Linked DNA regions of Homo sapiens. The protein of the gene in region 1 interacts with the protein of each later gene in a pairwise test. Each region holds a gene or a part of one and is shown on either strand. Other genes may lie near its edges. The genes, in order: THSD7B, LYVE1, GPR101 and KIR3DL1.

Region 1 (7,029 bases):
CTGGATAAGGCCTGCTGGTATGTCTGTAGATGAGATGCAAAAAATATGATAAACGTCAATGGGCAGCTCCCTCATCTGTCCATTTCTTGGACTCTTACCTACACAAATGAATTAGTTAATTAAAAGATCTGGCATATTACAAGCTAATGTTGGAAACTGTACCTGGATCAGTACCCATCAGAAATCAAAATGAGTACACTTCAAGGATTCTAGGGGCAGAATTTCCACAGACAATTCAGTGCTGCTGCTTCTCTTATTACCTTACCTTTCCCCTGCACCCCATTGTTATTTTCATGCAATTCTCTCTGCAAGTACTAACCAAAACTGAGGACAATTATTTTGAAAATGAAAATAGGATACTTTGGCAACTTAGGGTGTTAAACATATCTCTCTTCTGAGCTTCTTAGAGTTTGAGCTGAAAGACTGGAAATATGAAAAATTCTACTTTATTAAAATCCTGGCTTTAGGGCTTTTCTTTTGAATGAAACACCACCTCAGTGGAAAGTATTAATATTGAGTTAGATGTATAGGCTTTGGAACGTAGTAGTTATAATGGTACCAATCATTTATTAAATTTGTATTGTCTACTTGACACATTGTATCATTTATCTTCAGAGCAATTCTACAAGTCGGTGCTTTTATTATCTTCTACCTTATATAGGTGAGGAACTTTCTAAGGCTTAGAAAGTTGAAATAATTCATCCAAGTTTACATTACTGATGGAATGCTTATTTCAACAAGAGTGTCCACATTCTGAACCACTAAATTATGTTGTCTCTGTTCCACCAAAATTCCTAATTTCATACTGCTTGTGTTGGAAAGTGTGTTAATTGACTTCTACTTACCTGTGAATTGCTGAATGTAATCTCTGAGTAATTAACATCCTTGTTTTTCTGCCTGTAGGTCCGTGGGGAAGGTGTACAGGAGACTGTGGTCCCGGAGGAGTCCAGAGTCGGGCAGTGTGGTGTTTTCATGTTGACGGGTGGACAAGTCACCTGTCTAACTGTGGTGAGAGCAACAGGCCTCCAAAGGAAAGAAGTTGTTTCCGAGTTTGTGACTGGCACAGTGACCTCTTTCAGTGGGAGGTTTCTGACTGGCACCACTGTGTGCTTGTTCCTTACGCTCGCGGTGAAGTCAAGCCTCGGACTGCAGAGTGTGTGACGGCTCAGCATGGACTGCAGCACCGGATGGTGCGCTGCATTCAGAAGCTGAACCGAACTGTGGTTGCAAATGAAATATGCGAACACTTTGCCCTTCAGCCTCCTACAGAACAGGCTTGCCTCATTCCTTGTCCCCGGGATTGTGTAGTATCTGAGTTCTTACCATGGTCCAACTGTAGCAAGGGATGTGGGAAGAAATTGCAGCATAGAACTCGCGCGGTCATAGCTCCCCCTCTCTTTGGTGGTTTGCAATGTCCAAATCTGACTGAGTCAAGAGCCTGTGATGCTCCCATTTCCTGTCCTCTTGGGGAAGAGGAATATACATTTAGCCTTAAGGTTGGACCATGGAGTAAATGCAGACTGCCTCATCTTAAAGAAATTAATCCAAGCGGAAGAACTGTTCTGGATTTTAACTCTGATTCAAATGAGCGAGTCACCTTTAAACATCAAAGTTACAAAGCACATCATCATTCGAAGTCTTGGGCAATAGAGATAGGTTATCAAACCCGGCAGGTTTCGTGTACAAGAAGTGATGGACAAAATGCTATGTTAAGGTAGGAGACCTTTGATGCTTGAATTTGATTCACCTAAAATATTTTATAGTGCAACTTTATAAAGCTTCTTTATGATTTTCTACAAAGCGAAAATGGCAACGAGGTTTATAATTTAGGTTTTTAGAAGTTTCATGTAAGAAATTTTTAATTTCACTGGGAGGTTTTCAAAATTGCATAGTTTAGACCAAGCAGTGTTCTAGCATTCTTGTGTGATTAGTAATGCAATTATATATATAGGATAAGTCATATATTTCCACATTTTATCAAGACAGTAACTAGTATAAAAATAGATCTGCCATTACAACAGTGATAGAAGACTAAGGGGCTTCTCATAATGATAAAAATTCAAGTTCAATTTCAAATGTGGGATATGAATTATGTAAATATTTTTGTTTTTCAGAACATTTGTCCTTTAAAATTTTATTTTTGTTTTTATTTGTTTACTTTTGTTTCCACTGTTATCAACATTCTTTGACATCTGTGTTGTACATTTTTTATACTAGCAATAATACCGAAAAGTTGTTCCAAGAGTGCTTTCTTTGGCGTTATTTTGATACAGGTATTAACTTGCGCAAGCAGTAATTAGAATGACGTACTGGAGAAGAAATAAACTATTAAAGCAACAGCTTAGGTTTCAAATTTATGCTTGTTTTATTTTAAATTGTAGTCTAAAACATCATGACATAAACTCACAGAAATATATTGAAAGTAGTATTTGTTTAATTTTACCTCAGAGGGTCTTAAATGAAGCATTTGTGTATTACTAAGTTTCTTCCAAATTAAGATGCCTTTCAATAGTACTTAAATTACCAAACAACATAATGCTTGTCTTTAGAATTAATCATTCTCATCAGTTGCTGCCTTCTTGGGATCCACAGCTGACCAGGAGATGCCCAGAAGACTACCACTGTTGTTTATGAACAAAGTAATGTGATGATTGTTTTTTTTTCCATTTGACTTCACAAATGAGTATATTTTATCCTTGATACTTCATTCTGATTTGTGCCATATGAAATTAGCAAGTCCACTGAAGAGTGATTTGCAGCTTTTTATTGCCTACTTCTTTGAAGTCCAGATTAAGCAAAAGATTCATGCAATTTGTTTGAATGTGTGTGGGGTTGTGTAAATACATTGTTTTCTTAATATTCCGTACTGTATTGCTGAAGTGAGCATTACATAGAATCTTTTCATTTTGTTTGTGCATTTTTGCAGTGTTTTTCTTTTTTTAATAGACTTGATTTTTCAGATCAATTTTTAAATTTTCAGAAAAAATGAGTGAAAGTACTGAGTTCCTGTATACTCCCTGTCTCCAACATATAGTTTTTTCCTATTATTAACATCTTGCATTCATGTGATAGTTTCATAAACAAACATTTCATAGTTACATACACAAACATTGAGTGCATAACACAGTTCAAATTGTGTTCCCCTCCCCAAATTTATGTATCGAAATTCTAACCATGAGTGTAATGTTTTTAGGAGGCATGGGGCCTTTGGGAGGTAATTATGTCGTGATGATGCAGTTCTCATAGATGGGATTAGTGCGCCATGAGAGCTTCCTCTCACTCTTTTTCTGCCATTTGAGGATACAATGTGAAGTCAGCAGTCTGCAAGCCAGAAGAGAGAACCCACCAGAATGTGACTATGCTGGTACCCTGGTCTCAGACTTCCAGCCTCTAGAACTGTGAGAAATAGATTTCTGTTGTTTTTTAAGCCATCCAGCTTCTGGTACTTTGTTATAGCAGCTTGAATTGCCGAAGACTAACTGTTATAAAAATAAATACCATAGTTTGGGAATTTAAATGAGAAATTTATTTCCACAGTTCTGGAGGCTGGAAAGTCCAAATTCAAGGTGTGTCTTGATTTAGTTCGTGATGAAGGTTGTCTTCTTGTCTTAAAGATGGCCATCTTCTTGCTGTGTCCTCACATGGTGGGGGAGAGAGAGAAAAAAAGAGAGCACTCTATGTCTCTTCTTATAAGGTCACCAATCCTATCACAAGGGCTCCACTCTCATGACCTGATTACATTAGAAATTTCCCATATTCAAAATGGAGGTTAGAGTTTCAACATTTGAATTTTGGAGGAACACAATTCAGTGTGCAGCAGGTACATTGGTTACAATTGATGAGCTAATATTGATATATTACTGTTAATAAAGACTATAGTTTACATTAGGATTCATCCTTTGTATTGTACATTCTATTGGTTTGACAAATGAATAATGACATGGATCCACAATTACGGTATCATACAGAGTAGTTTTACTCCCCTAAGTATCCCTTCTACTCTATTTACTCATCCTTCCCTCTCTCCCTGAGAACCCCTGGCAACTACTGACCATTTTACTGACTGTCCCCAAAGTTTTGCCTTTTTAAAAAATGTTATATAGTTAGAATTATATATGTAGCTTTTTCTGGTTGACTTATTTCACTTTGCAATACGCATTTAAGTTTGTTCCATGTCTGTTTGTGACTTGGTAGCTTATTTCTTTTTATCACTGAATAATATTCCATTTTGTGGTACTATAGTTTGTTCATTCACCTACTGAAGTACATCTTGGTTGCTATCAAGTTTTGGCAATTTTGAATAAAGCTGCTATAAAAGTTTATGTGTGTAATTTTTTGTGAACATAGGTTTTCAAGTCATTTGGGTTAATATCAAGTAGTGCAATTGCTGTATGGTATAGCAAGAGTATGTTTAGTTTTGTAAGAAACTGCCCAGCTGTCTTCCAGAATGGCTGTGCCACTTTGCAATGCCACCAGCAATTAGTGGAAGTTCTATTTTGTCACATCACTGGGATTTGTTGTCAGTATTTTGGAGTTTTGCCATTCGAATAGGTGTGTAATGGTATCTCATTGTTTTAAATTGCGATTCCTTAATGACATGTGATGCTGAACATCTTTTCATACACTTGCTTGCCATCTGTATATATTATTTGATAAGGTGTCTATTCAGATGTTTTGTCTATTTTTTAATTGAGTTGTTTTCTTATTGTTGAATTTTAAGAGTTATTTGTATATTTTGGATACCAGTCCTTTATCAGATATGTGTTTTGCAAATATTTTTGACAGTCTATGATTTGTGTTTTCATTTTCTTGATGGTGTTGTTCACAGAGAAAATATTTTTAATTTTAATGAAGTCCAACTTCTCAATATTTTTTCAAGGATCTTTTTTTTTTGGTGTTGTTTAAAAATATCACTAAACCCAAAGTCAACTCAATTTTTCTCTTATATTTTCTTCTACGAGTTGCATAATTTTGTTTATTATATTTAGGTCTATCATTCATTTTGAGGTTTTTTGGTGAAAGGTATAGGGTCTATGTCTGCATTCTTTTTAAAAAAGATTATTATATGTTCAGTTGTTCCAGCACCATTTATTGTAAAGAATATCTTTTCTCTATTGAGTTACCTATGCTTTTTTGACAAAGATCAATTGACTATGTTGATATGAGTCTGTTCTATGCCTTCAATTTTTATTCTATTTTACTATCTATTATTTGTTAGTAACACAATGTTTTGAGTAATGTAGTTTTATAGTAAATTGTAAAGCAGAGAAGTGTCAGTCTTCCTATTTTTTTTCTTCCTATGTGTTGTCTGCAGTGAATCTTTTGCTTTTTCATATAAACTTTGGAACTACTTTTTGATATCCACAAAATAACTTCCAAGATTTTGATTGGGATTGCATGTAATGGAAGATCAATTTGGGAAGAACTAATATATTGATAATACTGAGTCATCCTATTCTGGTACATAGGATATCTCTCCATTTATTTAATTCTTGTTTATTTTGTCAGGGTCTTGGAGGGTTTTTTAAAAAAAATATATCTTGTACATATTGTGTCAGATTTAGATTAATTTACCTTTTTTGGTGCTAACATAAATGGTATTGTGTTTTTAATTTCATATTGCAATTGTGCATTGCTGGTATAATAAGAAAACCGTTAACTTTTTATATTAACCTTGCATCCTGCAACTTTGTTATAGTCACTTATTATCCAGAGATTTTCATTGCTGTAGTTGTTGATTTTTTGAGATTACTTACATAAATAAGCATGTCAGCATGTCATCTGCAAAAAAAAAAGGAAAAATTATTGCTTTCTTTCCAATCTGAATATGTTTTCTTTATTTTATTTTCTTGTCTTCATTAGCCAAGACTTCCAGTACAATGTTATACAGGAGTGATGAGAAAGGACATTCTTTTTTTTTTGTACTGGGAAAGAAATCTATGCTGTCACCATTAAGTGTTTTGTTAGCTATAGGTTTTTTTTTTTTGTAGGTGTTTTGATCAAGTCAAGGAAGTTCCCCTTCATTCTTAGTTTTCTGAGAATTTTCCTTATAAATAATCATTAGATTTTGTTAAATATTTTTTCTGCCTCTATTGATCTGATTATATGATTTTTGTTCATTAGCCTGTTTATGTTATGGATTACATTAATTGATTTTCAAATGTTGAACCAGCCTTGTGTATGTGGAATAAATCCCACTTAGCTGCGACGTAAATTCCTTTTACATAGTGTTGGATTTGACTTGCTAGTATTTTATTGAGACTTATTTCATGTATGTTTATGAGAAATGTTGATCTTTGTTGTCCTTACTTGTAATGTCTTTGTTGTGATGTTAGGGTAATGCTGCCCTCTTCGAATGAATTGGAAAGTATTTTCTGTGCTTTCATTTTCTGAAAGAAATTGTTGAGAATTGGTATAATTTTTCCCTTGAATGTTTGGTAGTGAACCCTCTGGACCTCATGCTTTCTGATTTGGAAAGTTACTAAATACTGGTTTAATTTCTTTTAACAGATTTAGGACTATTCGTATCATCGATTTCTCTTTGTGTGTTTTGCTAGATTTTGTCTTTCAAGGAATTGGCTCATTTCATCTAGATTATCAAATTTAGGGACATAGAGTTGTTCATAATATCCCTTTTTCCTTTTAATAGCTATGGGATTATTAATGATTACCCTTCTTAAGTTTCCAGTATTAATAATTTGTATCCTCTCTTTTTTTTCCTAACCTGGCTAGAGGTTCATTAATTTTATCAGTGCTTTTAAAAACCAGCTTTTGGTTTTGTTGATTTTTTTCTATTGATTTTTTTTCTAATTTCATTGATTTTGACTCTGATTTTATTATTTCTTTTCTTCTGCTTACTTTAGATTTAATTGCTCTTCTTTTTCTAGTTTCCTAAGGTGGAAACTTAGGTTACTCATTTGAGATCTCTCTTCTTTACTATTAGATGCATTCAATTTCCTCAAGCCCTTTCTCTTTGTTCCACAAATTCTGATAATTTGCATTATTTTCATGTAGTTCTAAATATTTTTG
Region 2 (7,029 bases), on another chromosome or scaffold:
CATGTCAGGTGGGATACGTGTTTCTCTTTCAGAGCTGAAGAAAGGGTCTGAGCTGCGGAATCAGTAGAGAAAGCCTTGGTCTCAGTGACTCCTTGGCTTTCAACCCACCTAGCCTCAGACAGCCAGGAGGCCTTTTTACCACTGGATACTGATGAGATGTTTTAGGTCCTTGCACTTTGCAAAACTCCTTTCTCCCAGTGGGATATTATTAGGACATAGCCAGGCTAGAAAGGCCGTGGGAAGCTTTGGAGGTAGGAGGATAGGATCCAGACAGGGTTACAATAAGGAGAAGGGCATTCTCTTTGGTGCACTCCATAGTCCAATGGCAGTCCTGAGCTGATTCCAGTTAGGAACCAAGGGTGGACTTTCTTCTTTGGTTCTTTGGCCCTTTTGATTTCCCCAGCTGGGGCAGGGTAAGGAGCATGAAAGAAACCAGCCTCAGGTGTGTCTCCTCATTTCTGTCTCATCTAAACTTCAGCTTCCAGGCATCGCACGGTAGTTTTGCTTGGACTCTTGGACTCTTCTGGGTTTTTATCAGTTTTCTTTGATTCCTCATTAGGGTTGCTATCATTGGCCTTCTCCTCCTTTACTACTTTGGTTTCGATCATTTCCTTCTGCTGATTCTTGTTTGTAAAAGGGAAGGCCTTCACATACCTTTAGGCAGAAACATGAAATTAAAGTGAGAGACTCTCACACATAACGATAGATAACACTTTTTGGCCATGGTACATATTGGCACAGTACACTGGATACCTTTATTTCAGAGTGATGCCAGCACATGCATGCTCTAATACATTAAGACATCACCACCTTAATGGATTCATTTAAATTGGACAATATGTTTGCAGGCCAGACTTTAGGCTGACCACATAACTCTTCCAACAAAAACAAAGAACCAAAAATCAAATAAAGCATATAAATTTTCCCCAGATGTCAATTTTTTTTAATTTCTTGATTTTCAAAGGACAGTCATTGACTGATGGCTGGACGACATGCATGTCCTGAAATAGAAAAGATTGGGCTGAAGGGAAAGAGATGAGATGAGGGAGAAATTTATATCAGAGGACTGCTATCTCCATTTTGATCAGCAAAATGCCAACAGTGACCCTGAAAAAGCACAGGATAGAAACATGACAAAGATTACAAGACTAGCAGTGCACCAACAACCCTACCTTTTGACATAGCAAAATCCAAGACCAGCTGCAGCACCAAAGAAGAGGAGAGCAAGCACTAGCAGAGCCGTGGGGACACCTGCAAGGAACAGAGACAAGGCCTGTTGGTCCTTCACTTAAACATTGTGTGTAATGCTCATTGCATGATCCAGGTGATTGAGACAGTAGACAGTACAGGAGAAAAACCTTCTCTGTAGCCCTTTATGATATTGGGCCCACACCAGCTTCTTTGCTTCATGCTTGTAGAATCATTGGCCTTGCTTCTCACACTCTCAATTCTATCAGTTGCAATATGACAGAGTTCATTTCTCCTCCATGGCCTTGAGACCTACTCTAGTCAACAAGCCTGCCTGAGAAAGAGATGACTAGAATAAAGTCATAGGCCTTTAGGGTATATATTTTAAAAAGAACTTATGCATAGGAACAGATAGTGATTTATTTTTAAAAGTCTTGAGTTTTCAACAGTGAAATTCTTTTATACTTACACTTTTTAGCTTAATCACTAAGGTTCTTTACAGCTCTCAGATTCTATGACTTCATGAAAGTTGAGTTTGTGTTAAGCTTTTATTAGTATTTGACAGGTCCTGAGCGCCTCATCTAAAGACAGGCAGGATTCTATGAATTATCTGTTATACATGAACATACATACACACGTAACATAGACACAGAAACCATTTACCTCCAAACCCAGCAGCTTCATTCTTGAATGCTGCTTTATTTTCAACAAATGGTTCAGTTTCTGTAGACATGGTGCTAGTTTCCATAAAAACTTCTGTGACACAAATCAATTTTTTTCTCCGTGGAATAGAAGTGGAAGCTGGAGCAGGAGGAGTAGTAGTAGGGGCAGGTATTGTAGAGTAAGGGGATGCCACCGAGTAGGTACTGTCACTGACAATAAATTCTGTTGTTTGTGTTGCAGTTTGAGTGTTGAATATGGGATCTTTGGTGGTGATAATTTCTGGAATGCACGAGTTAGTCCAAGTATCTGTTGGGATAGGGAAACATGGAATAAAAGTATTGCAACAGCCTCCTAACTGTTCTTCTTGCCTCTAGTCTTACTACCTCCAAACCCCTTATACCGCAGCTGGAATGGTCTTTAAAAAGCAAATCTAACCATATCACTTTCTTCCTTAGAAGCCTTCAGTGGCTATCTTTGTTGTATGGCCTACAAGGCCTTCTGTGATTTGGCCCCTGCTAACATGCCAGCCTCATCTGCTCTTTTTCTCTCATTGCCCCTGCCATACTGAAATTACTTGAAATTCCTTGATACACTTTATCTTACATCCAAGCCTTGCACCACGATGCTTTATTCACCTTTATGACTCTTTGCCTCTCTTTATTTAGCTTACTCTGACTCATCCCTCAGGTCTCAGATTGACCCTGTCTTTCTCAGGCAGACTTGTTGACTTGATTGGCATATGTTCTTGTACTTCCTTGTCACAGTTCTCATTACACTGTTCCCCACTGGACTGCAAGCTCTCTGGCAGCAGAAACCCCGTCTGTCTTGGTCAGCATGGTATGAGCACTGTGTGTGGTACATAGCACATGCTCAATAACTATTTGATGAATAGGGAAGGAAGGAAAAGGGAAAGGAAGGAAAGTATAGATTGGAAGACCAAATATACACATGTGGTGTCACTTCAGGACAAAGATATGCTAAGACCTGATATTTCTGGGCTCATTAAAAAAAGAAGTGAACAAAAAGGGACCAGGAGAGGGATAAGGGTTTGCTTTCCAATCTGTTGCATGTGCTAGAGAGGAAACACTTGTTAAAGCATCTTAATCTGAGTTGACCATGGCAGTAAGTGTTTAAATAGGTATCTCATTGAACAATATTACTAAACCCTTGTTTACACAGGAGGAAACTGAAGTTTAGAGAAATTGAATAACTCGCCCAAAGTCACAGAGCTAGTAAATGGCAGAGCCATGCAATATATTATAATATAAATTTGCATCTATTTTAAGTCCCTAATTATTTGTGGCAGTGGGTAGCATCAGCTGGGGTTGGGGGGTGGGCTAGCAGAGGGATAGCATTAGAAGAAATACCTAACGTAGGTGACGGGTTGATGGGTGCAGCAAACCACCATGGCACATGTATACCTATGTAACAAACCTGCACATTTTGCACGTGTATCCCAGAACTTAAAGTATAATAAAAATAAAATAATAAAATAAAATTATCTCTGGAAAAAAAGAAAAGAAATACATGGGATGGGAGTACAAGTTAAATGAAACCATGAGGAAATAGACAAATCCAAGTCCTCTTCCTCTGGCTCTTCTCTGTTTAGTCAGAGGGCTGGGTATCATCACATTGCCAGCTGGCAGGAAGGCAGTTAAAAAGCAAAGCCATTTGACAGGCATGGGCTGGCTATGAGGTATGCAGGCATATGTAGCTCACCAATTCCCCAGCCAGTGATGATAGACCAAAGAGGCAGAGAAGGGAAGGAAGATGGGAAATACACTGTTAGGAGAAGCCCTATGTTTCAGTCTTGATTCTGCCACTAACTGACCGTAGGACCTTGAACAAGCTAAGCCCGTGTTCTGAACTGTAGTTGTTTCATCCATGAAGTGAGGGAACTGGTCAAAGTTTCTCCATGGGCCTTTTCTGTGCCAAAGCCCTCTGGATCAGGGAACTACTTGGATCCTATATTGCCTTTCTGGGACAGTTTTTGCTAATATTGGCTGGTGCACATTTATCTCTCGGATCTTCGAGAATGATCTTGAAATCTATCCTGTGTATGACCTCTCAGCCACCTAACCTTCAGAAGGTCAGATAGATGAGTATGTGTGAAAAGTAATAATCAGACAGGGGTCCTTATGACAAACTGAGAGCAAGTGAGTATTTAGTAAAAGAAAAACTTTAGGAGAAGTACTTAGGTGAAGCACTTGGGCTAAGGCAGCCAAGGTCTTCAAGCAAGGTTAGTGGGTGACTTCATGACCACGAACAAATCAGTGCTGCCCTCCAGGTGTCAATCTTTTCCTTCATAAAGTGGAGACTGGGTCTGGTTCTTAAAATTATAAAGGAATGTGGAACAGTGGAAAGAGTGCGGTTTCAGAGTTAGACCTGAGTCTGAACCTTTACAGTAATGAGACGTTAGACAAATGTGTTTACATCCTTTGAACTCGGTTTCTTTTTTTTTTTTTTTTTTTTTTTTTGAGACGGAGTCTCACTCTGTCGCCCAGGCTGGAGTGCAATGGCATGATCTTGGCTCACTGCAAGCTCCGCCTCCTGGGTTCATGCCATTCTCCTGCCTCAGCCTCCCGAGTAGCTGGGACTACAGGTGCCTGCCACCACGCCTGGCTAATTTTTTGTATTTTTAGTAGAGACGGGGTTTCACCGTGTTAGGATGGTCTCAATCTCCTGACCTTGTGATCTGCCCGCCTCGGCCTCCCAAAGTGCTGGGATTACAGGCATGAGCCACTGTGCCCGGCCTGAACTCGGTTTCTTTATTTGCAAAGTGGGGATGATAAAGCATATCTCATAGGGATCTGTAGATTCCATATAGGTGGAAGCAACCAACCTTGGATTGAAAATATTTGGGAAAAAAAGAAAAATAACAATACAACAATAAAAAAGCAAATAATACAGTACAATGACTGTTTACATAGCATCTACATTGTATTAGGTATTATAAGTAGTTTAGAGATGATTTAAAGTGTACAGGAGGATGTGTGTAGGTTATATGCAAATATGACCCCATTTTATATCAGGGACTTGGGCATCTGTAGATTTTTGTATATGATGGGGTGCCGGAACCAATCTCCCACTGACACTGAGGGACGACTGTGCATCACTTTGTCCATAATGGATGCATTACATACATCTGTACCTTTGTTCCTTCCCTTCTGCCTGCTTATCTTATAGGATGCAGGGATGGTGGCAGTGGTAATTGAGCCTCCTGAATGTCTTCTCGTGTGTTGCCATTCAGTTATATCTCTCCTAACTTTTTCCTTTGAGGGGCATATTGCCACCCCTAGCCTGGCCAGAGAGACAGTGTCGGGAGAATTAGATGGCCGTGGCTGTGATTGCTTCTGCTGCTGCTCAGGGTTACTCTTCCCAGACAGGTCTCAGAGTGAGAGATACCCAGAGAATGCCACGTGGAAAGGTTGCAGATCAGACTCACCAGATGAGTTGTAACAATAGGCTGCAAACTGTCGGCTCACTGGAACCTTCCAAATCAGGACACCCACCCCATTTTTCCCACACTTGGGGTTTGGGCTAATCCTAGAGATGACCACGAATCCATCTCCAACCCAGCCATAGCTGTAAAAGAATACACACTAGTTGAACAGAAAAATGATTAGAAGGCTTCATCTCTATTGCTGAACAAGAACACAGAGCTAAAAAAGAACTCCAGCAGTGACAGTGAAACCAGCTTTTTCTCACCTGCAAGTTTCAAAGCTAGCTTTCAAGGCTGTTTCAACTTGGTCCTTGCCGGCCAAACTTAGTCCCAGCAGCCTACAGGCCTCCTTAGCTTCTGTGAAATTCAGCTGCTGGTTCGCCTTTTTGCTCACAAGGGTGATCCCCATAATTCTGCATGACACCTGGATGGAAAGCTCTGCAAAGGAATCACATAGGTCCTCAGTTTGCTGCTGTCCTTGTTTCCAGCCCTTAGACTCTCCTTCCCAGCAGAGTATATCGTCCTGATGCGCAGGGAGGTCTATCTGGCTGGGACTGGGGTTTAGAATAACAGGACACAGACCAGGCATTTTCCACAAGGACCATCTGCTGGGCTAGATGGATGCTTGTTCTTGTCCAAGCTGTAAATGTCGCCCAATCAAAATCTATCCCATCCCACTGCATTAAGATGCCTTGCTCACCATATAGGGGCTTTGGCTACCTGTTGTTGGGGTGCAGTCTAAGGGATGCAGTTACTGCAAACCTTTCTGGAGTCTGTAAAATGAAGCATCTGAGACTTTGAGAAAGATAGAATTCAGGGCTCTAGTTCATAGAATAGTTAGCAATACCCCAAACCAATGTGGTTTGGGGACACTACTATTTGTGAGATGGGCTGAAAATGTCACACTTGTTATAAAAGAATGTGAGTGCTCTCAGTTCCAGGTCTTTTGGCCACTGGGGGACAGGCTTACTCAGAAGTTCCTGGAGGAGCTGGCAGTAAACTTTGAATGGCAGAAAAACTAAATGAAGAAAGCAGAATTTTAGAGTCAGACTTGGGCTTAGATCTAGCATATGTCATTTGCTAGCTCTGTGACCTTAGCCTAGATACTTCATCTCTTTAATCTTCAGCTCTTTGAGCCTCCTTGTTTATAAATTCAAGGGAGTAACAGTGTCTACTGAATAGGGTAGTGAAAGTTAAGTGAGTAAATTCTAATACAAATGTTTAGCATAGTGCCTGCCACATGGTAGGTGCTTAATAAATCCACATAACATTATCATTATCGTTAAAGCATTTTGGTTTTGGTCTGCTAATGATTGATTACCCCACAGAAGCTGAGGCTGTTGAATAGGTAAGATATGAATAATATTTCTACTCAAAATCTAATGGATTTGGGAATTCTTTTGAACCCTTTTCTCTGGGTTCTGGGATGTACAGACCTGTATAAAATTGCCAAGTTGTATTGTATTCAAATACATTATTCCTACTGGGCTTCATCCACAAACATCCATAAAAGGGCATTTAAATCTCTCAAGTAATTGCTTGTACGCAGCTCTGTGTATTGGATGCTCAGTCAAATGCTTTGACCACTTCCTAGGTTGATATCTAATGGAAGTTTCTTTTTGAAAACATGGAAGGAGCATTTCTAAGTCCTCCATATGAACCTTGCTGTGGTGGCAGATTAGGAGCACACACTCAATTATGCCTGATTCTAAAACCCCAGTTCCTCTTTTTTCCTT
Region 3 (7,029 bases), on another chromosome or scaffold:
AGCCCGGAGGCAGCATGCTCTGCTGTACAATGTCAAGAGACACAGCTTGGAAGTGCGAGTCAAGGACTGTGTGGAGAATGAGGATGAAGAGGGAGCAGAGAAGAAGGAGGAGTTCCAGGATGAGAGTGAGTTTCGCCGCCAGCATGAAGGTGAGGTCAAGGCCAAGGAGGGCAGAATGGAAGCCAAGGACGGCAGCCTGAAGGCCAAGGAAGGAAGCACGGGGACCAGTGAGAGTAGTGTAGAGGCCAGGGGCAGCGAGGAGGTCAGAGAGAGCAGCACGGTGGCCAGCGACGGCAGCATGGAGGGTAAGGAAGGCAGCACCAAAGTTGAGGAGAACAGCATGAAGGCAGACAAGGGTCGCACAGAGGTCAACCAGTGCAGCATTGACTTGGGTGAAGATGACATGGAGTTTGGTGAAGACGACATCAATTTCAGTGAGGATGACGTCGAGGCAGTGAACATCCCGGAGAGCCTCCCACCCAGTCGTCGTAACAGCAACAGCAACCCTCCTCTGCCCAGGTGCTACCAGTGCAAAGCTGCTAAAGTGATCTTCATCATCATTTTCTCCTATGTGCTATCCCTGGGGCCCTACTGCTTTTTAGCAGTCCTGGCCGTGTGGGTGGATGTCGAAACCCAGGTACCCCAGTGGGTGATCACCATAATCATCTGGCTTTTCTTCCTGCAGTGCTGCATCCACCCCTATGTCTATGGCTACATGCACAAGACCATTAAGAAGGAAATCCAGGACATGCTGAAGAAGTTCTTCTGCAAGGAAAAGCCCCCGAAAGAAGATAGCCACCCAGACCTGCCCGGAACAGAGGGTGGGACTGAAGGCAAGATTGTCCCTTCCTACGATTCTGCTACTTTTCCTTGAAGTTAGTTCTAAGGCAAACCTTGAACTGTCCATAACACGAGAAACAAGAGGAGATTTCTTTTCAATGGACCCACAATTCATTAATGCCAAACCATACCATTTCAGGCAAAGGTGTTGCACACACATGCTCTTCACCACAAGGTAGATAAATATATAGAAGAGGCAGGAACTGGGGTCTTTCCGTAAAAGCATGGACTTGAGGATTCTGACTGAAATTTTCCCCCCAAAGATTATTAGGCTCTACATTTCTTAAAGCAACAAGGGCTATCCATTTTGGACTTGTAGTTGGTATTCTATCTTTTCCAGAGCTACAACATGCCAACTTTAGCTCTGAAGGAAAGGGAAGATGATGCTTGTGAACTTAAGGACTTTTCGGCCCTCGGGTCGGGAGCTCATGGGCCAGAGCTACAGCTTGTGTTCAACTGAAAGAAAGGCAATGGACCAAATCATTCATGGAGCCCAAGAAACAGAACCTAATGGACTGATCAACATATGAGCCAAATTCTGAACTGAACAGCCCCACAGTCGGGTGCAAAGACTGTTACACAAACTAAAACAAAGGGCCTCCTACAGTTAGAATCTCAAGAAGGTTTCTAGATCCCCTAAAGGGATCCAGAAAAGTAGAAGGACATGTATGAAATGGGAAGCTAGTCCAAGGGAAAAGATTGAGAAATAACACACATCTGGAGAGCTAAACAGTTGACTTTTTTTCCTATAAAATCTTGGGTTTATGCATGGGCTGGAACTGAGGTCATTAAGTGTAAATTGTCAATTGACACAAATATTTTCTGTCTCCTGTTTGAATAATAGTGGGGCAGAAATCATGCCACTATTTTACAACTTCCCTTATGTGACTGAATTGAGATGCTGGTGGGAATTCTTCAGATCTCTGCCAACACTTCTGTTTTCTTTTGGTTTGTTTTTGTCAAATAAGCCTTTTTTAGTCAAACAGTATTTACAGAAAAAAAGAAATTCAACTAGAAGTGGCCTAAGTCCTACAAAATTCATGATGTCACTGAGGAATAATTTGTTCATCAGAAATATATTTTGTGTCCATGAGATCATAGACAATAAATGTGATCTCCACATGGGGAGCAAGGAAGGCAGAATGAACATTTTTCTTCCTCCAGGCACACCCATGTGTCTTTTCCACCTGTGGCTCTCTTTAAAGCTTTTAAGCTCTCTGCAGATGTGAAAGAGAAATATCAGAGAGTCAGAAATGACAAAGAGGATGATTTCACAATACCTAGAAAACATGTAACCTATTCCAAACAGTCCTAAAATCAGAGCATTCAGATCAGACATATCCTAATTAATGCTGTTGAAATAAATCACGTTGGGAAAACTTTAACAATATCTAAATTATCCCTAGGGTCAATTCACAGGAACATTCCTCAAATCCCAAACCGCAAAATAACTTTGGGCAGGGATATACATATACATTTCTGAGGGCATGGGCCGTATGTATGTGACCAAGTAACATGGAACCAAAAAAACAGTCAAGCCAGTGTTTTTGATCCTCCTACAGAACAAGTTAAAGCAACTCCAGAGTCAACCAACTGTTCATGCAGAAATCCACTGTCAATATGGGTGGAGGGAGTGTTTGGTTGAAAATGGTTAATCAGGTAGTTGTATGATGTAAGATGACCATCTTCAGAGTTTAGCCTCATTCTTGTGTGATTGTCATGCCTTTATTAGAACTCAAGTTTCATTTAAATAAATGCCCAGCTCATTTATTTTTTTTTATCTCTTCCTCCTCACAGATTTCAACATGAACTTCTCAAGGGGTAAACAGCAATGTATTTGGACTGTGAATAACTCTGCATGGGAATTTGGGATTGCCATGTTCAGAATTTAGGAAAGTAGAGGGAATAGAACCAAATAATATAGAGCTGACCCATCCAATAAAAATACCATGATAACCTTATTAATTCCAACTCCATTAATTTGGAACTTGTAGTTATTCAGACAAGGCATGGGGGCTAAAGTTTACCCTTACACTATCATTTATTTTTCTACCAAAATGCATAAAGTGAATTAACAGTCATAAATTTGTTCTACCAATTTATTGCCAAACTCTTGAACTGACCTTTCCTTAAAGGATATCTGGGTGAAGAAATGGCCTATGTGATCAATCCTCCTACAGGGGAGGGGCAGTGCCTTCAGGTCTGTTCAAATTGTCAAAGGAGTTCAAGGTAGCTATAGCCTATCCTTTGAGTAGAAATGCTTACTTGGGTAGGAAACAGGATTTCAAACATAAATGTCTCCAAACATTGTGTTAAAACTGAACTTCTTGTTTTATTTTTAAAGCTCACCCCCTTCAAAGTGTATCAGAGAAAATTGTTTGCCAAAATCTCAAATCAAAATGGAACCAGAACCTGTACAAGTATGGTAAGTCCATTTAACAGCACACACAACATTCTCAAGGGCACTGAGATTCCCTTTCCTTTTTGAAGTTCCTCTTTTCCCTATTTTAGTCATTGTCCATTATTTTGGTAAATTGGATTCCTCAAAAGTGAAGACCTTTTGAAACTATGAGCCTGGAAAAGAGGACCTTTTAATTAAGAGCATTCTGCTTTGATGACATTTTCTTCTAAATGAACAATAAGGCCTATGGTTAGCTTGGAGATAGCAAGTACTCGAAATTTTTTGCTATTTTGAATAAAGCACTATCAACTTAATGAGGTTTTACTGCACATACTGTTTTGTCATTTGAAAATCTGAAAGCACACAAAAAAAGTCATCATTAGCCTCACAGATCCTCATGTGCAATAGCTTTCCCTGAATGTTTTTAAAGGATGTATTCTTTTGCCAAGGCCACTTCATATGTGCAGTAAAAAAAAAAAAAAAAATCCCATTAAAGTACAGGGGCCAGACAAACCAGACTATGAAATGATGTGATTTTAAATTTAATGATTTTCCTTATTTACGAATAATAGAGCATCTAGTTTGCCAAGAAGTCGCAGGTGCTTTGACTAACACACCAATTTCCACAAGCTTGGGAAGGCAGTAATAAGGAGCAAGCCCTGGGCTTCTGTGACTTCTGTGATGCTAGGGTCCCACTTCTCTGAGACACCACAAGTACCAGCTGCTTGGAAGGCCTCTGCACTTCCAGCTCCCTGCCTACCTCTTGCCATCAGCCCACTGCCTTCACCTGCCTCACTCCCTCTCCCTCTGCTGCACTGGCCCTTCAGGAATAGTCCATGCTTGAAGCTCTGCGTGTTCACCTACTCCCCATCCATCCCTTCCCAACCCAGAGCTGACAGATTCACAGGGACCTGGGGGCCTATGGAAGCAGGGAAGGAGAGAAGTGAGCCATAGGAGCAATGAAAGGTATTTTTCTGTCTCCTACCCAACTCCAATCCAATTTAGAGATGACGGGATACCTACTTCAAATTCAACAGGTAAGGAAAAGTGCCAGTTATTATTTAGTAGAAGGTAGGCACCTAATTTTTTACCAAAAAAGCACTCGATATTACACATCATTGGGGGAATAGTCAATACTGTAGATACTGTCCAATTATTTCAGCAAAAATAGAACACTAAAAAATGTTTCACCTACAGAATTATAAGATGCCTAACATTGCCTTATTTTATATATAATTAGCCAATTAAGCTAGGTAAAGTTACTTCAAGAAGATTTTTTCATACTACCTGAAGAATAATTTACATGATTAAACTAGGCTTACTTAGACTTTGCCAAAAAAGCTTTTAAAAGTGTCTGAAACACATCATTTGGAAGAAAAAAAATACGCATCATCTGGTAATTTGGACTCTCAAGATAAAACTCTCATGGGTTGTTGGGATAAAACAATGAGCAACAATTTAAACTACTGGACTGTATTTTTCTCTCATAACCACCCTGCCCAATATTTTGAGGAAAAAAATAACGTGTTTTCCCCTCATAATGTCTTTTCTGTTGTATTCCTCTTTAAGAAAGACCTCACGCTGTCAGGAGAGGTTTCTCTAAGCAAAATGCCGTTTCCTTCTAGACCAGACAAAAGATTACAGGAACAGTTAGCTGTTAGCCAGTGGCCAAGATAAGGAGAGAAAATCTGGCCACTCAATGGCTTTTAACCCTCTCCCTCCTTATCTCTTCCTCTTACTTTCCATGGGCTGGACTAGTGCTCTCGGCCCCTCAAAGCCCCTCTAAGCTAAGGCATGAGGAGACAGAAGCAATGAGCTGGAAACAGCAAATGCGATAGTCTAAAATCCAAAAAGAAGAGAAATCCTTGTCATAAATTCTTTCCAATTACTTAGCAATGATCTCTTCCTCTACGTCAAATGCCCAGCTTGCTTACAGCAGTCTTTTGCCCTAAGCAACAAAACTGGCTAGAGGAAGAAACAGTGAAGCTAAAATCCACTGAACCTGGCCACAGATTGCCAGGTCACTGACAAGTTCACTGCTCTTTGGTAAATAGAATAAGAATCCTCAAGGTAAACGAAGGTTGCTAATAGGTGTCAAGTGTTTCCATCATTGCCTCCCAAAGCCTCCATATCTCAGAGTACACACACCAAGGGAAAACCACAGTGACTTAGACACTCAGCAGGAGGTTTACTATGTCTGAGGAATAATTATTCTATCTGTCTTGTTCTAAAATGTAGAGAAAAACAAGATTGGTTTTAGTTTGATGTTTCAAACGTGAGTGGATTTTCCCCCCTCTTCATCTGTGCTACAACTTTAATGTTAAAAGTTTGGTATTTTCATCTTTAGTGATGTAGTATTTTTTGTAGTAATTCTCCTAAATGTAAACTATAACTGTATATAAAATGTAAGTGTTCTTGGAGATACGGTGCTAGATATTAGATTGTGTTTGTAGATAGTGTTGTCCTCAAAGGTAGTATGTACTTGTAAAGTTAGTTAATAAAATGCATGCCAAATTCTATGTGTGACCTACAACTTAGTCAGTTTCTGATGTAGAACATGGTACATTTGTTTTTTAAATTTATTTTTGAAGTATATACTACAGGATATGTAAAATAGTGCCAAGGTGGGGTTGCAGGAAGTGTTGCCTTTCATTCCTTAAATCCCTAATATGATATATGACAGGTGAGGACTTATTCTGGTACAATTGGTCATTAGTGTGAACTAATCATCGTGGCTGAAGTCCTTGCTGACAGTTTTCCACAACACACTTGGCACTGGTGTGCCTGTTTTCTATTCACTGAATATATAGAATGCAAACTCAAAGAAGACCATCCTTCTCCATTAAAAAGGAAGGACTCCAGGATAGGCAAGTAGAGTCCAGTTAGCAGGACGAAAAGAATACTGCACCCTGAAGACCCAACCAACACCTGACCGTGAACTGACAGGTTTCGCGCTTGGCAGATCCATAATGTGACCATCCATGCCCTCCTAAAGCAGTAGCAAAACCCAGAAAAAGGCTGCTCTGTTTTTCCCCCTTTGGTTGGTTGTCTGAGAGACAAGATAGAGACAGCATGGATGGCTAACTAGATAGAGAGGTAGTGGGACTCCTCTATGGGGTCACAGCTACGGTGTTTGATAGTTACAGTACTGTATCAATGGAATTTGTGTCAGACAAGAAAAGAAAACTATAAGATGATTTTGTTATATTTTCAGAACAAAATATTACAACTAAAAAACTATATATACCCTCATTAAATTGTTTTTAAAACTGCCTTTAATACCAAATTTTGTGAGCTGCTTTGAAACTGAAAACAGAAAAATGTATTTAATCAATAAATAGTTCTCTTTAATATTTTAACGTTTGAATTTAAAAGTTTCATTTTTCTTTAAAAACAGTAAGAATTTGTAATTGAAAAGTGCCTTCTCAAAGGATTGTCAAACTACAGTCCTGAGGCCAAGTTCCCATTGGCACGACTTACCTTCAGGTGCACAAAACAGGTAGGCTTTATCTTCCTCCCCTCAACAAGAAGAGAATCCCACTCACACCCCAATCAAATTCATAAATCAACACTATTACATGGGCCAGCAGTCCCAGAGATTCTGCCCAAGGCCAAGGTTTCACATATTGGTTGGCTTTAATTGGATCCTTTCTAAAATGGTTACAATGCCTTTTTTTTTCTTTTGCTGGAAAGGAATAACGGACTCCTGCTTGGGAAATGCGGAGAAATTGATGTTTGTGATTTAACTAAGTATTATTAAGTGATGTTTGTGTTTCTTAAATAGGTGC
Region 4 (7,029 bases), on another chromosome or scaffold:
ATACAACAGCCCAAGAGATGAGGCTGTCTTCACAGTGGCAAGGGAGTCAGGGGCTACTGGAGACAGAGGGACAGAGAAGAGGGAGGAAGACAGATGGAGGCACCTGCACCAGGGGATATGGGCACAGAAAAGACACGGAGATGCAGAGAGGGAGGAGAGAGACAGACACGGGGAGGGGAACCCTCACTCATTCCAGGTGCCATGGATGGGATGATAAAGAGAGATGCCTTCTAAACTCACAACTTCTCTTTCTAGGAAACCACAGAAAACCTTCCCTCCTGGCCCACCCAGGTCCCCTGGTGAAATCAGGAGAGAGAGTCATCCTGCAATGTTGGTCAGATATCATGTTTGAGCACTTCTTTCTGCACAAAGAGGGGATCTCTAAGGACCCCTCACGCCTCGTTGGACAGATCCATGATGGGGTCTCCAAGGCCAATTTCTCCATCGGTCCCATGATGCTTGCCCTTGCAGGGACCTACAGATGCTACGGTTCTGTTACTCACACCCCCTATCAGTTGTCAGCTCCCAGTGATCCCCTGGACATCGTGGTCACAGGTGAGAGTGTCTAGACATTGTTCTCATTGTCACTGGGACACAGAGTGAATGATCCAGGACTTGGAACCCCCAGGTGGTCATGAGGAAGATAAGTGTGGGATTCTTATGGAAAGAGAGTGACTTGGTGAGGTCTGTACCAACAGAGACAGAGAAACAGGAGACATAAGTACAGAACAGGTGTCATAACAGAGGACAGACACAGGGGCCATACAGGGAGGTAGAAAAGAGAGAAAGAGGTAAAGGAGACACTCAGACAGACAGACATGTCCCAGAGAGAGGTGTCCTTCCATGCTGACTTTGCTCAGAGACCTGGCACAGGTTAGAAGTTTCATTTCTGTTTTACCTCCACAAAGTGTTCCTACCAGAAGAACCCAAGGACACCCATATTTCTGACCTGAGTTGGGCCCTGTGGCCTCAGGCCTTGTGCCACCTACAGATGCCGTGTTTATTCTGACACCTCTGCCTTCCATGCAATGGAGAGTAATCATCCCAGGATATCATGGCCCCTGAACACCAACCCCTGTATGCTGTGTGAACTTGGGGTCCCCAGACTGGATTCTGAGGCTCATATTCCAAATAATCCCACATATGATAGGATCGCTGAGAGACACAGAGAAAAATCAGGGACACCAAAAAGCAAAGACATAAACACACACAAAATGAGCCAGAAGAAGGAGATTAAGAGATTCACAGACACATAAAAAGAAAGAAAAGAGGGCAGAATGGAGAGAATGATGGAAAGGAGGAGAGAAAAGCCCCAAAATCAGAACCCTGAGGGAGGGACACAAAGACAGAGAAAGATAAATATGTGGGGATGGATTGCAGAGATTCCAAATAGAACTAGAGAGACTGAGAGGCAGAGAAAGACAAGGAGACGGAGAGAGAGAGATGATAGATGGATAGATAGACGTAGATAGATGATAAATAGGTAGATGATAGATAATGGATTGGTTATAGATACATAGATGATGACTGATAGATGATACATAGAGATGACGATGATGATGATAGACACATAGATATATACATAGATGATACATAAATAGAGACAGAGAGGCAGACAGAGAGGTAATAGAGAGAGAGATAGATGATACATATATAGATAATAGATGATTGATGGATAGATAGACAGACAGACAATTGATAGAGAGATAGATAAGTGATACATAAATATAGATGATAGATAATTTGTAGATAGACACAAAATAGATAAATAGATAGAAATGTGCAGAAAGTTATGAACAAGACAGAAAGTGAGAGACTCAAAATTAAAGAAAAAGGAAGATCAAGTCAACCAATCCAAGGAGGGTCAGAGAGAATAAAACAATCCAAAAAGGGAAAACATACCTCAGGGTGGGGAAGTGAGGTCATAGACCTAGAGAGACAGAAAAGGTAGAAGGAGGAAACAGATATGAAGAGAGATGGGGTGGAGGGTGAGAGAGAGAGAGAGAGCATTAGGTCATAGAGCAGGGGAGTGAGTTCTCAGCTCAGGTATGAGGGGAGCTATGACAAGGAAGAACCTCCCTGAGGAAACTGCCTCTTCTCCTTCCAGGTCCATATGAGAAACCTTCTCTCTCAGCCCAGCCGGGCCCCAAGGTTCAGGCAGGAGAGAGCGTGACCTTGTCCTGTAGCTCCCGGAGCTCCTATGACATGTACCATCTATCCAGGGAGGGGGGAGCCCATGAACGTAGGCTCCCTGCAGTGCGCAAGGTCAACAGAACATTCCAGGCAGATTTCCCTCTGGGCCCTGCCACCCACGGAGGGACCTACAGATGCTTCGGCTCTTTCCGTCACTCTCCCTACGAGTGGTCAGACCCGAGTGACCCACTGCTTGTTTCTGTCACAGGTGAGAAAAGCCCATATCTCTCTCATGTCCTATGATCCTAAATCCTTAGCTAAGGAGCTTCCTGCTGATGATGGAGAAAAGCATGGACAGATGCAGAGAGAAGACACAGCAGGTGTGAGGGCGGAGTCAGGGCGCAGGATGGCAGACAGGGCACCTCCAAACCCTCCTTCATGGCCTGCATGGAGGCCTCCGATCAGGGCTCCAGGCACCCAGGCAGATGGAGAAAGCGGTCAGGACAGACCCAGAGAAGGGGAGACTGGGCTTAGTTTGGGGAGATCAGAGGTTCCCTCAGCCCCTCAATCTTATCCATTTCCCAGAAGCCCATCATGGCCTCTCACCCACACAGAGAGATATCATCACCAGCAACCCCTACACCCTTTTCTTTTCATTTTCAAAAATATTTATTGAGGTTAAATGTAACTATATAATTTACCACCTTTACCATTTTTAAAAGTAAAATCTAGTGGTCATAAATACCTTTATATGCTGGGTGTGGTGGTTCACGGTTGTAATCTCGGCGCTTTGAGAGGCCAAGGAAGGTGGATCATTTAAGATCAGGAACTCGAGATCACCCTGGCCAACATGTGGGAAATTCATCTTTACTAAACAGACAAGAAAAATTAGCCGAGCATGCTGGCATGCACCTGTAGTCCTAGCTACTTGGGAGGCTGAGGCAGGAGAAGCACTTAAACCCAGGAGGCAGAGGTTGCACTGAGCCGAGATCATGCCACTGCACTGCAGCCTGGGAGACAGAGAGAGACTCTGTTTCTAAATAAATAAATACATCTATATTCTTTTTTTTGTTACCCTCCACCCTTCCCTTCCTGGCCTCTGGTGTCCACCATTGTATTCTCCACCTTCATGAGATCCACCTTTTATCTCCTGCATGTGGGTGAGAAATGGGAATCTTTGTAATGACCTCCAGTTCCATCCATGTGGCTGCAAATGACAGGATGTTATTGTTTCTATGGATGAGTAGTCTCCACTGTGTGTGTGTACCACAGTTCTCTATCCATTCACCCACTGATGGGCAGGTAGGTTGACTCCACATCTTGGCTACTGTGAACAGTGCTGGAACAGTCATATGAGTGCAGATATCACTTCGATACACTGATGTCCTTTCCTTTGGATATAAACCCAGTAGTGAAATTGCTGGACACTATGAAAGTTCTCTTTTTTTTTTTTTCTTTTTTGAGAAAGAGTTTCCCTCCTTAGTCCAAGCTGGAGTCTAAGTGGTGAGATCTTGGCTCATTGCAACCTGTGCCTCCTAGGTTCAAATGATTGTCCTGACTCAGCCTCCCTAGTAGCTGTGATTACAGGTGCACGCCACCATGCCTGGCTAATTTTTGTATTTTTTTAGCACAGACGGGATATCCCAATTTTGGGCAGGCTGCTCTCAAACTCCTGACCTCAAGTGAGGTGCCTGCCTCGGTTTCCCAAAGTGCTGAAGTTACAGGCATAAGCCACTATGCCCAGCCTCCTTTTAGTTTTTTAAAGAATTTCCATACTTTTCTCCATAATAGTTGTACTAATTTACATTCCTACCAACAGGGTACCAGGGTTCTCCTTTCTCTACCATCTTGCCAGCATTTGTTTTGCCTGTCTTGCAGTAAAAGCCATTTTACTTTACTTTATTTTATTTATTTATTTATGTTGAGATGGAGTTTCACTCATAGTCTCCCAGGCTGGAGTGCAAGGGTGTGATCTCAGCTCACTGCAACCTCCGCCTCCCGCGTTCAACTGATTCTCCTGCCTCAGCCTCCAAAGTAGCTGGGATTACAGGCATGTGCCACCACGCCTAGCTAATTTTTGTATGTTTAGTAGAGAGGGAGTTTCTCCATGATGGTCAGGCTGGTCTCCCGACCTCAGGTGATCCGCCCACCTCCGCCTCCTGAAGTGCCGGAATTACAGGCGTGAGCCACCGGCCTAAAAGGCATTTTAATGGGATGAGATGAAAACTCATCGCGATTGTAATTTACATTTCTCTGATGATGAGTGATGCCGAGTACTTTTTCATATACGTGATCGCCATTTCTATGTTTTGTTTGTGGAGAAATGTCTCCTCATGTCTTTTGCTCGTTTTTTAATTAAATTGTTTTATTGAGTTGTTTGAGCTTCTTATATTTCCAGTTATTAATCCCGTCTCAGATGAATAGTTTGCAAATATTTGCTCCTATTTTGTCGGTTGTCTCTTCACTTTCTTGGTTTATCTTTTGTGGTGCAGAAGTTGCTTGGTTTGATGTAATCCTAATGGTCTATTTTTTGCTTTGATTACTTGTGTTTTGAAGGTTTTAAACAAAATGTCTTTCGTCAGACAAATGTCTTCCCCATTATTTTCTTCTACATGTTTCATAGGTTCAGGCCTTAGACTCATGTTTTTAATCCATTTTCATTTGATTTTTGTGTATGGTGACAGGTATAGATGCAGTTTTATTCCTCTGCATGTAGATATCCAGTTTTCCCCACACCATTTATTGAAAAGACTGTCCTTTCCTGATTGTAAGTTCTCGGCACCTTTGTCAAAGTCCATTAAATGGGCTGGGTATGGTGGCTCACACCTGCAATTCCAGCACTTTGGGAGGCCGAGGCGGGTGGATCACCTGAAGCCAGGAGTTCAAGACCAGGCTGGCCAACAGAGTGAAACCTCGTCTCTACTAAAAATACAAAAATTAGCTGAGCATGGTGACCAGTGCCTGTAATACCACTACTCGGGTGTTTGAGGCAAGAGAATTGCTTGAATCCAGGAAGTGGAGGTTGCATTGAGCTGAGATTGCACCTCTGCACTCCAGCCTGCATGACAGAGCAAGATTCTATCACACACACACACAAAAAAAGCCATTGGATGTAAATGCATGGATTATATCTGTGTTCTCCATTCTGTTTCATTTTTTATGTGCCTTTCTTTATGCCAATGTCATGCTGTTTTGCTTACTACAGCTCTGTAACATATTTCTAAGTCAGGTAGTGTGATGCTCCTGTTTTCTCTTTATACCTTCAAGTCTCAAGACAGTGGGCATCGCACACAAAAATTATGGAGAAGAGGATCCCAAGACTCCCAGGGTCCAACATTAGATAACAGAGTGTTGGCCATGAACCAACCTCAAAGATTTCCATTGAGTAGAGGACAAGCACCCTCATTTCCTCACATCTCTCCTGTCCCATGTTCTAGGAAACCCTTCAAGTAGTTGGCCTTCACCCACAGAACCAAGCTCCAAATCTGGTGAGTAAAGGACCCCTCTTATCTCTGCTTTTGGAAACCTGGGGAGGTGGAAGCCTTGGATGCAAGTGTTGGCTCAAACCTCCCAGCTCTGTGAATGAGGGCCTGTCTTCCACCATCTCTGAACTCCAGACACTCCAACAGTGAAAGGGATCTAGGGCCACCAAAGGGCTCAGCGAAGTCTCTTAACCTTTAATGTCCTGCAGGTGAGACCTCCTACAAGCTAGAAGAATGATTGCCAATCTGACATCCTTCTCAGGAAACATGCAGTGTTTTTTCTTCCTGCATTCCTAACTGGAGGATAAATTCCTGGGGACTTGAGAGAGGGAAGGGAAGGGAACATCTGATGAGGGCGAGGTGTTTTAGAGAAGTTCCACTTGCCAAGGAATGAATTACTGTTGGTCATGAAGCAACCCTGGCTGACTCAGCAGAGCAAGAGCCTTGCCGTAACAGAGAACAGAGCTCATGCACGCACACTTCGACTCACTGACTCATTCAGCCACGGCCCCATGCTCAGGCTGTGCAGTTGGAATCCTTTCCTATTGTTGCCATAACAAATTTCCACAAGATTCGTGGGTGAAAACAAAACGGTTTTTTAATTATCTTACAGTGCTGTAGCTCAAAGTAGGAAGTGCATCTTACTGGGCTAAAATCAAGGTGACAGCAAGGCTGCCTTCCCTCTGAGGATTCCAGGCAAGAATCTGCTTCTCACTTGTCCCAGCTTCTAAAGGCTCCCAGTTCCTTGGCTCCTGGTCCCCTTCCTCCTTCCTCAAAGCCCACAAAGACTGGTCACATCTCACATGGCATCACTCAGACCCTTCTTCCTTACCACACCTCTTTCTCTGAATGCTGCTCTCCCTTCTTCCTTATCTTTTGAAAACTTGGGGATTCTATTGGGTTCACCAAGATGAAAATCCATCATAATCTCCCGGAAATCATTCAGGATACCCTTGTTTTAAGTTCAGCTGACTAGCAACCGTAATTCCATCTGCAATCTTCATTCCTTCTTTCCATGTAAAATAAGATATTCACAAGCTATGGAGGCCAGGACAGGGACATTTTGGGGTGGGACAGCATTCTCCTGCCTTCCACGAACGGTGAACAAGATGCATTTGGCCTCTGCTCTTGGGACACTGATATTGCAGATGGTTAAATGGGAGGACAGAAAATGAGTGCACAAGTGGACCAATAAATGAATGATCCATTGGGAAGCATCTGTGCATGAAATCTATTTGTTTGTTCGTTCATTTATTTATTGAGACAGAGTCTCCCTCTGTCTTCCAGGCTACAGTGCAGTGTCACGATCTTGGCTCACTGCAACCTGCGTCTCCTGGATCCAAGTGATTCTCCTGCCTCACCCTCTCGAGTAGCTGGGATTACAGGCAACTGCCACCATGCCCGGCTAATTCTT

The links.
Region 2: the proteins of THSD7B (region 1) and LYVE1 interact in binary tests that used the Homo sapiens proteins (3 or more experiments, as listed by UniProt).
Region 3: the proteins of THSD7B (region 1) and GPR101 interact in binary tests that used the Homo sapiens proteins (3 or more experiments, as listed by UniProt).
Region 4: the proteins of THSD7B (region 1) and KIR3DL1 interact in binary tests that used the Homo sapiens proteins (3 or more experiments, as listed by UniProt).

What each region holds. Positions count from the first base shown.
Region 1 is NC_000002.12:137,055,517-137,062,545, forward strand, and holds part of THSD7B (thrombospondin type-1 domain-containing protein 7B precursor), read left to right. Parts: intron 1-903; coding exon 904-1,714; intron 1,715-7,029.
Region 2 is NC_000011.10:10,558,644-10,565,672, forward strand, and holds part of LYVE1 (lymphatic vessel endothelial hyaluronic acid receptor 1 precursor), read right to left. Parts: intron 5,732-7,029; coding exon 5,560-5,731; intron 5,437-5,559; coding exon 5,297-5,436; intron 2,158-5,296; coding exon 1,852-2,157; intron 1,252-1,851; coding exon 1,173-1,251; intron 655-1,172; coding exon 468-654; 3' UTR 1-467. UniProt on the Homo sapiens protein: Ligand-specific transporter trafficking between intracellular organelles (TGN) and the plasma membrane. Plays a role in autocrine regulation of cell growth mediated by growth regulators containing cell surface retention sequence binding (CRS).
Region 3 is NC_000023.11:137,023,993-137,031,021, reverse strand, and holds part of GPR101 (probable G-protein coupled receptor 101), read left to right. Parts: coding exon 1-874; 3' UTR 875-7,029. UniProt on the Homo sapiens protein: Orphan receptor.
Region 4 is NC_000019.10:54,819,458-54,826,486, forward strand, and holds part of KIR3DL1 (killer cell immunoglobulin-like receptor 3DL1 isoform 1 precursor), read left to right. Parts: intron 1-255; coding exon 256-555; intron 556-2,107; coding exon 2,108-2,401; intron 2,402-5,570; coding exon 5,571-5,621; intron 5,622-7,029. UniProt on the Homo sapiens protein: Receptor on natural killer (NK) cells for HLA Bw4 allele. Inhibits the activity of NK cells thus preventing cell lysis.